Regions from separate parts of the Homo sapiens genome. Here region 2 is linked to region 1. A link means that fine-mapping ties the variant in region 1 to the expression of a gene that starts in the linked region. Tissue or cell type: prefrontal cortex. Region 1 holds a variant in brackets; the other region holds the start of a gene. All regions are shown on one strand. Distances are between the middles of the regions.

Region 1 (5,392 bases):
CTGTATTAATGCCATTTTCAGCTTGCATTGAATACAAAAACTGCTTGAAAGTTCCAAAAAGTCTAAGATATTGCTCACATTTTTAAAATGAGTTTTGTTATTATTGTTTTGAATTTTCATTATTTTGTTTTTTATATGTCAGTGAAAGCTTTTACCAAAAGCAGTTAGGTTTTGTTTTTGTTTTTTGTTTTGTTTCTATGGTTTTTCTAAACTTTTAGGTTCAGGGGTATATGTGCAGGTTTGTTTTATAGGTAAGTTGTGTTTTGCAGGGGTATAATATGCAGATTATTTCATCACCCAGGTAATAAGTATAGAATCTGGTAGGTAGTTTTTTGATCCTCACTCTCCTCCCACCCTCCACCCTCATGGAGGCCCCAGTGTCTATTTTTCCCTTTGTGTCCATGCGTACTCAGTGTTAAGCTCCCATTGATAAATGAAAACATGAAGTACTTGGTTTTCTGTTTCTCCATTAGTTTGGTTAGGATAATGCCCTCCTGTGCTATTCATGTGTAAAGGACATGATCTCATTCTTTTTATGACTGCATAGTATTCTATGATGTATATGTACCACATTTTCTTTATCCATTTTACCGTTGATGGGCATTTAGGTTGATTCCATGACTTTGTTATAGTGAATAGTGCTGCAGTGAACATATACATGGATGTGTTTTTATGATAGAGAGATTTATATTCCTTTAGGTATATGACCAGTAATGGGATTTCTGGGTCAAATGGTAGTTCTGCTTTAAGTTCTTTGAGAAATTGCCAAGCTGATTTCCACAGTGGCTGAACTAATTTCCATTCCCACTAGCAGTGTGTAAGCATTCCTTTTTCTTCACAGAGGTTAGAGTTTGATAGAATAAGATGCTTAGGATCTATTCCATATTTCATAAACAGAGGTCACCTGGCAGAGTGTGTGTGGTCATGAGAGAAAGAAAGAAAGAGAAGAGCTTATAAGCATGAAGACTGTAGGTTTCTTAACTCATCTATGAAATATTTAATGATTAATTCACAATTAGCCTAACAGAAGATATTCAAAAATATGTTAAGGATCCCTTTGTAAGGAAGTGAATGACCACCAATAATTTATTATTCTATCAATATTCTTTTAATTTGAGCTGTCGAGCAGTATTTTGCTTGAGCAATCCAATTCACAAAGAAGCACAAAATACTTTGCATTGAAACATTGAGCATCATTTGGCCATTGGTACTTCTAAGGTATTTTCTTGGTAAAATTAAGTCTACTCAATCTAGCTTGGTCTGATGATTTACCTCCTTTAACAAAGTCTCTAAGTTCTTTTCCTCTCTTCTTTATGCCTACATCTAAAATTACTTGTGTACGTATTTCTTATTTCCTTCCTTCTCCTACTGTTAGGTAAATTCTAACAGGTGGGGCCTGCAGATTACTTATCTTTACATCTGTAGTGCAAAGTCCATTACCTAGGATTTAATAAATGCTCAACTAATGTCCGTTAAATAGGTAATCCATTAAATTCATTTTGCTTGATGTAATAAGCCATTTTTCTTCAAATACTAGATACTTTAAACATTTTAGAAGGGAAAAAAAATTAAGAGGAAGGCCTCTGCCCCAGGATCAATAATGATGTTGACTTTGTTGCATTTTATTTTATTTTATACTACTTTTGAAACAGCAGGAAAATAAACTAAAAAGAGTGTGACTGTACTGAGATAAACAAGTCTTATTATAGTAACTCCCTTTATCATAGCCTACTGGATACCAGGAAGGTGGATGAAGTGGTGTTATACCAGGCTCCAGTTTAATTAGGGAAAAGGTAATAAAACCTTAAGAGCTCTGGGCCCCTGCAAGCTCTACAGGTGGTTATTCTCTACTGATGAGGCTTGTGACTTTCATGAAGTCAGTTAAGTAAATCTAGCTTCCTCATCTGGCAAATGGAAATAACAGTTCTTTTTTAAAAACCTTACAGAATCGAACCAATGAGTAAAAGAGGTTATTTCTGTGAAATCATGTTAGCTCAAAAAACTGTCATTGAGATACAAGAACTCATCTTGATGCACCACGTAGAAGAGTAATATTGGGAATCTCATCACTTATTTTAGATGAAATATCTGGTATCTTCAAAGCGCGGTGAACTGCCAATTATAATACAAAAATAATGGCGGCATCCCAATACTGACAGTAAAACTTCAGCTTAATGTTTACAGAAACTTTTAATATCCAAAGAACATGTCTTCTCTCCTCTGTTATTGCCAATGTCTAACAACATCCAGAATGGTATCACTCAATGAGGGCTTGCTCAAGATAATAATTAGCTTAAAAACTTGATAATGGAAGGCAACACATTATAATGGCTGAAGTGTGGGTTCTAAACTTAGATTCCCTGTATTCAAAATCCAGCCCAACCACTTATTTAATTAACTAATCTTTGATTAATTTGCTTAACCTCTATAATCTTAGGTTTCTTCATCAGTAAAATGGAAATGATAACAAAGCCTCTGGCCCAGGGCTGTTGCCTGGATACAATTTAGGTAAAGTTCTAGCATAGTGTCTGACACATGGTAAGCACTGAATAGATTCTAATGTGTTGATTGATATTCATCTTTTTCTAAGATGCTAGAAATTGCACACCTTTACCATTGACTATTAAATGTGACATATTCAGTTTAATAGGCAATGTGAAAGAATGGGTTACATGTGGTTTAACCAAAAAGTAACAACGTCATCCCTGATGTTGTCCATATGCCATCACATTCATCTAATAAGTATCACAGGTTGGTCATTGCATTGAGAAGCAG[G/A]AACCCCCATTTTGGCACAGAGTGACCATCTCCACAGTCACGGCCGTTCCTCAGCCTGGCAGTTAAGCACACAATCACGTCTTTCTGTTTGCTCCTGTCCTTGTTCATGCTCACCAGGTACAAAGACAGGAGACTGGCCCAGCACAAGTCGGAAATAGAGTGTTTCACCCCCAAAGGGAGTATGGGGAATGGTGGGAGAGCAACAATGAGCAGGTAAGCAAACTATGAGTGGCCTGAGGTGGTGTGAAATAAATGTATGCAAGCTAGAGGAACATGTGGCTCCCTGGTCTGGGTCCTCACTCAACTGTGCAACTCATACAGTGTGTCCAACCCAGGCTACTACTGGTTTTCTATGTGTGTTTGATTTGCAAAACCTATGACACCCTCATGTGTAGTAATGGGAGCCTCCTGTCCCAGATGCTGCTGTTTCCCAGGGTTGTGCGCTTTGCATGTCTGAAGCCTTAGCTCACAGTCAGTCCTCCTCTGGGTTTTAACTTATTGGTCAAACGGTTCTGGAGTTTGCAAAGTGGAAGAGATTGGAGGAAACTCATATTTCAGGGCTATCCAATCACTTAATAAAACAAATACAAAGCTTAGAACTGGTTTTAAGGAAAGGATTACTATTGAAGGAAGACTCCAGCCCCTGATCCTGGACAAGCCTGGAAATTAATATACCTTACTTTGAATGTAACATCATCTCACAGCCAAGGGCAAATGCCTTGCCAAACTAGTGGACTGTAGAGACAAGTGGCTTTTCTCAAACTGAAATCAGGAAAGCTAATCCTCCTCTAGCTACCATAGCTTTGCATCTCCTTTGCTTCCTTGTGTTTGGTGATGAACATTCTCTGTCGCTGTGCTGTGCATGTTCTTTTATACTAGGCACTCCTGATTGAGTTGTACCTAGTAAACCGGAGTATTTGGAAGTATAAGCATTAACTAAGCTGTGTTGCATGAAATAAACGTGCTTTATTGCATGGGATTTGGTTTTAAGAAAAGGGCCCTGGGGCCGGGCGCATTGGCTCACGCCTGTAATCCCAACACTTTGGGAGGCCAAGGCGGGTGGATCAGCTGAGGTCAGGAGTTCAAGAACAGCCTAGCCAATGTGGTGAAACCCCGTCTCTACTAAAAACACAAAAATTAGCCGGGCATGGTGGCACACGCTTGTAATTCCAGCTACTCAGGAGACTGAGGCCAGAGGACTGCTTGAACCCAGGAGGCAGAGGTTGCAGTGAGTTGATAACATGCCATTGCACTCCAACCTGGGCAACGAGAGTGAAAACTGTCTCAAAAAAAAAAAAAAAAAAAAAGAAAGAAAGAAAGAAAGAAAGAAAAAGAAAAAAGAAAAGAAAAGGGCCCTGGAGACAAAGTCAAGATTGACATTAAACAGTTCCAGAATGTTGAAGGAGCCTTGAGTTGAGGAGTCACTTGCCATGACTTAACTCTTCACTTCTAATTTGTTGTGACATTTCTCAATCCATCTGTGGTGTAGAGGTATGGAAGGAAAACTTTTGCAAATCATCCTGGATTAGAGAAAAGGAAAAATTCAATAAGTAGAGTATGTGCATATGCATGTCCATGTGCTGAGAGCAGAGCTTGAGACCTAATTGCATAACAAGAAGATAATCCTGTTGAAATTTCACCACAAACATTTTGTTTGCTTCCTCAGTGGTGGGCTCCTTCCTATTTTCAAAATAATAACTACATTTTTCCAAGGCCCACCATATTGCACAACTGCTGGTGGACTATTCATATTGCAGTCTATGAAAATGGTGCCCAGAACTGTTCAGCATACAGTTTGAGCAATCATTCACAACAGTCCTGGCCAAGGGCTTGGCCAACTTTGTCTATGGTTCTCAGAGACAAGGCAATGATAGTGTGTGTACATGTGTAGGCATATATGTGTGTACTTTGGTGTATCTGATGGCCTTATGCCTACAATCCCTTTATACAGCTATCTTTGGATCTCAGTGCATCTGCAAAATGAGTCTCAGAGGATCATTTTGTGGAAGTGACTCAACAGAATGCTATTGGGGCTCCTATTTTCCTTCCACTTAGATATAACAAAGTAGCATAATTCATATCCTTGAAAATTAGGCAAACAGCACCAGAGTAAGCTGGACAAGGTTAAAGTGACTTCACCAAATGAGTGCTCAAGGGCTCTTCCCAGAGTGACTTCTAATTTGAGGTCTAAAACTGGAGTTCCCAAACCTGGCAAACTTAGCTGACTATCAAACAGACTGAGGCAAAATATTGGGCAATACAACTTAGGAATCTGTCATGTAACAAGTTTCCTAGGTCATCTCAAAGAAGCCAGTGCATGAACTGATATTTTAGAGTAATCCATTCATGTAGGAGATGACATGGAGCTGTTTGTGGCAAGCATTTGGTCTCAATTATGCAATTCGATGCTCTTAGCAGTGTTTAGTCAATACTTAGAGCTTTAGATCTGATCATCACAGAAATTAAATTTGCTCAAGGCTGTCTTAATTGAGAATGAGGGGAAAGGGACAGAGAGGGTAGTACACAGAGAGTAGGAGATCCCAGATAAACATACCAGGCTTCCTTGGGTCAGGTCCAGATCTACAAAGGTATTCACTTGATGTATCTCCAGCAAGAA
Region 2 (5,392 bases), 21 kb after region 1:
AGGATTAACACAATCTTAATACACTGAAAATTTTAACTGTGTCAAGTCAGCTTAGTGGAGATTTAGCTATGCCAGTGAGCAGTGATTTTAACTATTCTTGGCTGCTTAAACAGGGCAGCTATGAACTATGACAAATGTAGATTTTTCAAAGCAATACAAAATACTAAAAAAGAGGAACCTTAATGAATATTAACCACACAGTCTTTCTTAGCCATTCCAAAAAGAGGCAAAGCAATTCTTATTTTCTTTTTTAAAATAATGATTAATATGATTTTGTGCACTTCATACTGTCACTTTTTAAAACTACAGAAAAGAGATTTAGAGTATAACAGAAACAAGTGTGCTTTGATAGTCTCAAATAGGTAGAATTCATAGTTCAAGACCTGAATCCACTGTCATCTCTTTCTTCCTCCCATTGCAGCTATCCTCAGGTACCAAATGTTTTGATTTTTAAATAAGGATAGTAATAAATGGAGGAGGTGTCCTATAAATTTAAAGTTCAGTTGACCCAGCCTTATACTTAAGATAGCCTTATGAAAAATATGTGCTGTGAGGCAGAAGTATATTTTGGCAGAGAGAATAATAAATAAAACTTTTTCTTTTAGCTCAATATCCTTACTTTGGTAAGTATTTTTTTTTATTTCACATCTACTTAACAGAAAATAAACTGAGAAATAGAAGTCAGTCCATTGGCATAATTTATCATTCTTCACTTTAAAAAATTCTAATAAATATTCTGCTTGAGTTTTCTTTTCTGCTATTTGTTCTTACTTGCAACTTTAAGTCAAACCTCCCAATACAAAACATTAAAAGCTAACATTAATGTACTAAAGTATTAATTTAAAAGAAATCGAACCTCCCATGCTAGATTTGAAAATAACATCATCACAGCACCCTGATCCCAAATATTACACCGAGGCTTTTAAAATGTAAGTGAAATCTAGCTAAGTTTCATGGTTTCATTAAAAGCAAATGTCTGCCTCTATCTGAAAAACAAATGGAAATCTTTTGAGGTGTTAATACCCTTTGGATCCTCATCAAAAGGATGGCATTCACCTGAGGATTCCTATCTTGACTTCTTAGGTATTAAAAACCTTTCTTGATATGCTCTACATTTTAAAATTTGTTTTATAAAATCCTTATGTTGATTTTCATTTTATTCTCAAGTACAATACGTTTCACTCTAGACCAGTTGAAGAACATGTTTAAACTTTGTTCATGGTCAAATTCATTTTCTATTTTTTTAGTAACATATCTCTTAAAAAGCACACTACCTTATAAAAAACTTCATCAGAAATTAAATTTAATGCAAGTAAATTGCCATCTGATACTTCCACATGCTATCATAATCAACTGTAATAATAAAAATGATTTATCCAATTAGAAAAGGACAAGATATATTTTTCTCTGTATTTCTATAACTTTTGCCACTCCATTGAATACATTGTATGTTGGACATAAGATTATTAGTAATGCATTCTTGAGATCTTTTATTTTGGAATGATGCTAACTCTGTCTCTTTGCCAATTCTAATACCAGGTTCCAAGTAATAACTCTACAGTACAAAGAGAACTGAATATTCATTCTAGGGCTATAGGATATGAACTTCACAATTCATTTGGGTACATTCTCATTGAATTTCCTTCAAAACAATCTGTTCCTGGTGCCCAGTGATAATTCAGTCGGGACCAGCATGACTAAAAGGAAGGGGATATGCTAAGGCTCAGCAAAGTGACCCTAAATGAGAGATATGTCCCAGGATGGAAAGAAGAAGACGTGGTTTAACCAAGTTATACTGACTAATCTAAGCAGTCCACTCATCCTTCCATTTTGGGAAAGGAGTGGGGGCAGCCTAAGAAGAACATATCTGGATTGGGAAGAACCGTCTTTCTGGGCTAGGGATGGGGAACAGAAAGGGAGTATGGAAAGAAAAATTATAAGAGATTTGACTGAAGCAAGGAAAAAAAGCAAATCCCCAAACGTGCTAATCCTTGAAAGTAACTATCTTTCCCAAACTACTGCTGTTACCAGCAAGTGATCAGGAAGACTAGGAGCTATTTCTGACTGTAAATGAATTGTATAATAGCTCTGCTGCAGTTCTGTGACTTCCAAGCCAGGAATTAAATGCTCTTTTTAAGAATAACAAAAAACAAAAGCATTTCCTATGCTAGTCTCCCAGTAAAATGTACATGTTTTGGAGACTTCAAAGGTATTATGTGAGTTCACATTTAGCAACAGCTTATTAATAACCCTCAAGCTGTCAGAATCTCTATAGTTACCATTTACAATTTTATACTGTGAAAAAATACAGATCAGTGAAAGCATAAAGACAAGTCAGAATTCACTTTGAAGAGGGTCTGAGGCCTGGGAGAGTCTCTACTGTCTATTGAAGAATGAGGCATGTATAAAATAGTTGGTTGAATTTCACTGATCTTCCCAATGTGAACAAATATACTATGTATATTGTGTGTATTTCTAGAAATCAATGGCAGCTGCTGATGGTGTTGTAATTAGAAATCTATATAGATTATAGATGTTTTAGAAAGATGGTGCCAATCCTAAAAGATTTGTGTGGGCTAAAAGTGCTTGTACTTACTTTTTTCTGCACTTATAACTGATTTGGTTTTAAAATTGTGTGCGTGTATCTGTTCTTTCTCTGTTGTGGCAGCTTGTACTATTAAAATAATAGAGAATGTTAAATTATTTTGATGTGAACTGCAAATGATTTTTTTTCATAAAGTTTAACATTTTTATCAGCATTGTTTTGCTTTGTACTTGTATAAATATGTTTTATTTTAGCACTTCAAAATATACTTGCCTGTTTCTCAGTTGTCTAAATCATGTTGTACTTGGTGTTTGTGAAGCCAGTTACTTTTCAAAAAAATTAAAAAACCTATAATATGATTTTAAGATTATTCCCCTCAAATGTTTAGAATGTTGTCTTAATAGTGTTTTCTGAGATGAAAAGAGCCATGATACTAATTAATCTTGAATACTGGATGATCTATACATTTGAATTATGGGGTTTACAAAGTAAGCAGTGGACTGTATAGATTTAAATGAAAATATAAACCAACCACAAACCAACCAGAGATGTTGTCCCCAAACACATCTACAAACAACTGTTACATAAAGAAGTACTTAAAAAAATATATAGGAAATATGCATTGTTTATGCATCTAGACATACAAATTATAGAAATAGTTTCATAATTATATGTGTTGATAGAGGTAACATCACACAGATAAAATAGATTATTTGTGTGTGTATAGATGTGTGTTTACAAACATACATATTTATATAGACATTTGACTTTTGAGTCCATCTGCATGTGTCTCTGTGTATATGTGTGTTTGTGTGTAGATGTATGTGCATATTACATAATTTTTCCAGAAAAAAAAAAAGTTTTACTTTGACTGATTCTTGAGCAAATATACATTCCCTGGACACAAATTAGTGAAAAACTAACAGCAGAATATAAGGTAGATGCTTGATGTATGGAAGAGAAAAACAAGGTATATTTAAAAATATATTTGATTTATGCTTCTGACATTGTATTAAATGCATAATGATATATATACATATGTAGATACATATATTATACAGAATGTGTTTGATCTTAACAAAGAAAGCCATTTTATCTGTTTTGTCAGACTCTTCCCTTCAGTATCTTTTATTCTAACGTGATATGAATGGTAATATGTTCACATAAAATTGAGGATGAAGTGACATATACAAACCAGGTACAGGAAATTACCTTCTAAAAATCCAAAGAGCCTTATCAGACTCCATCAAATTATGGAAGGCCATTTAAAACCAGCGGATGCAATAGAAATAGCATTGAATTAAAAGCCAGGATCTCTTACCTGTCACCAACTGACTTTGGATAAATCACTCTGATTTCTCTACAACTTGTTCCTCTTGCTTTAAATGCAGAAGTGAGTTACAATAATCTGTGAAGTTTCTATCATTTCAACATTCCTGATAAATGCTCAATAGTAGCTATTATTAGTGTCAATGTAGTATTTAGTATACAGTTAATATTCAGCAGGAAGCTTAAATTTGTTATATCAATGTTATTTGTGGAGCTTAACAAGTTCCTGTCCAACTTAAAGCATATATCCTGGAGGAAACCTATTGAGGTTTGAACTCATATGCAACCTTGGAACTGTCTATCAAGGACAACTTAGTAAATTGATATTGAACACCACAGAGAGAATGCTTTTCCTCTGTTATAATTGCTGCTGAATGCTGGCCAAGTTTTTGGTTATGCTGTACATGAATGATCAGTTTTAGAACATAAACAATTTGCAAATATTTACTTTGTATGATAGCTAGGCAGAAAGGTAGGTAAGCACATAGATAGGCAGAATTATATTAATGAAGTTATCTCCTTAAGCAAAAGCTTGGTATTTACATTTTCTCTCACAGTATTTTAAAACTCAGAATCAGTTATTACATCTCACTCTGTTTATTACTTTTAGGTTATTATGTTAGTAAATAAGTTCTATGAAGAGAATGTTTAAACTCATCTTCTCCAGCCACTCTTAGAATCCTGAACCAAAAGTTTCCAGGAACACTTAACCTCCACTAGAATAAATGTTTTAAATTACTGTTACACCAGGACAAAGACATTTATTTTTGCCAGGACATAAGTCTCTTTGAGGTATGATCTATATACAGGATACCTATGTGATATACATATCAGACACTTTGGCTTATTTATGTATAGCTTGTATTTTTATTCATTGACATTAAAAATAAAAATTTTCATACTATCAGATTTCTATGATGAGATAGATGTTATATTTTAAATTATACAAATTCTATGTCCGTGAAAACCACATAATAAATTGTGGCTTTTCTGAACTGCTGAATAGTAATAGGTGATTCATAAAAGTTCTTAGAGTCTTAAAAGTTTGAAAAATGTAGTAATTCCAAATTAAATGGCTATCTTCACTTCGGAAGTTACCAATTTATAGTATTCTTTTTTTTTTTTTTTGAGACGGAGTCTCGCTTTGTAGCCCAGGCTGGAGTGCAGTGGCGTGCAGTGGCGCGATCTCGGCTCACTGCAAGCTCCGCCTCCCGGGTTCACACCATTCTCCCTCCTCAGCCTCCCAAGAAGCTGGGACTATAGGCGCCCACCACATCGCCGGCTAATTTTTTGTATTTTTAGTAGAGACGGGGTTTCACCATTCGCAGGATGGTCTCGATCTACTGACCTTGTGATCCGCCCGCCTCGGCCTCCCAAAGTGCTGGGATTACAGGCGTGAGCCACCGTGCCCGGCCCAATTTATAGTATTCTAATATCCATTAACTTTGCTAATGAAGCTGTCTCCTCAGAGTAGAGTTTCATGAAAAGAATTTTGGAAATGCTATGATATAAAAGTTA

Alleles and levels. Positions count from the first base shown, and alleles are read on the strand shown. Sizes are in standard deviations (SD) of each study's normalised expression.
For the expression in prefrontal cortex of the gene that starts at base 2,904 in region 2, allele A in region 1 goes with a lower level than allele G (small effect, 0.35 SD a copy in BrainSeq).

The links. PIP is the estimated chance that this variant, and not a neighbour inherited with it, causes the effect.
Region 2: GRM5-AS1 starts here. The variant in region 1 is the best candidate, but not a certain one, in a credible set for the expression of GRM5-AS1 in prefrontal cortex (BrainSeq, PIP 0.78).

The regions. Positions count from the first base shown.
Region 1 is chr11:88,522,905-88,528,296 of GRCh38, reverse strand. GRM5 (glutamate metabotropic receptor 5) reads left to right here. Exons shown (of 10, transcript NM_001143831.3): 9 at 2,893-2,988. It overlaps GRM5-AS1 (GRM5 antisense RNA 1), which reads right to left. Exons shown (of 6, transcript NR_049724.1): 5 at 5,330-5,392; 6 at 4,243-4,295. Among named protein-coding and RNA genes, the nearest start is that of GRM5-AS1, 21 kb to the right of the region's middle. The variant G/A (reference allele first, on the strand shown) is at 2,776.
Region 2 is chr11:88,502,088-88,507,479 of GRCh38, reverse strand. It overlaps GRM5-AS1 (GRM5 antisense RNA 1), which reads right to left and starts at 2,904. Exons shown (of 6, transcript NR_049724.1): 1 at 1-2,904. GRM5 (glutamate metabotropic receptor 5) reads left to right here. Exons shown (of 10, transcript NM_001143831.3): 10 at 1-2,838.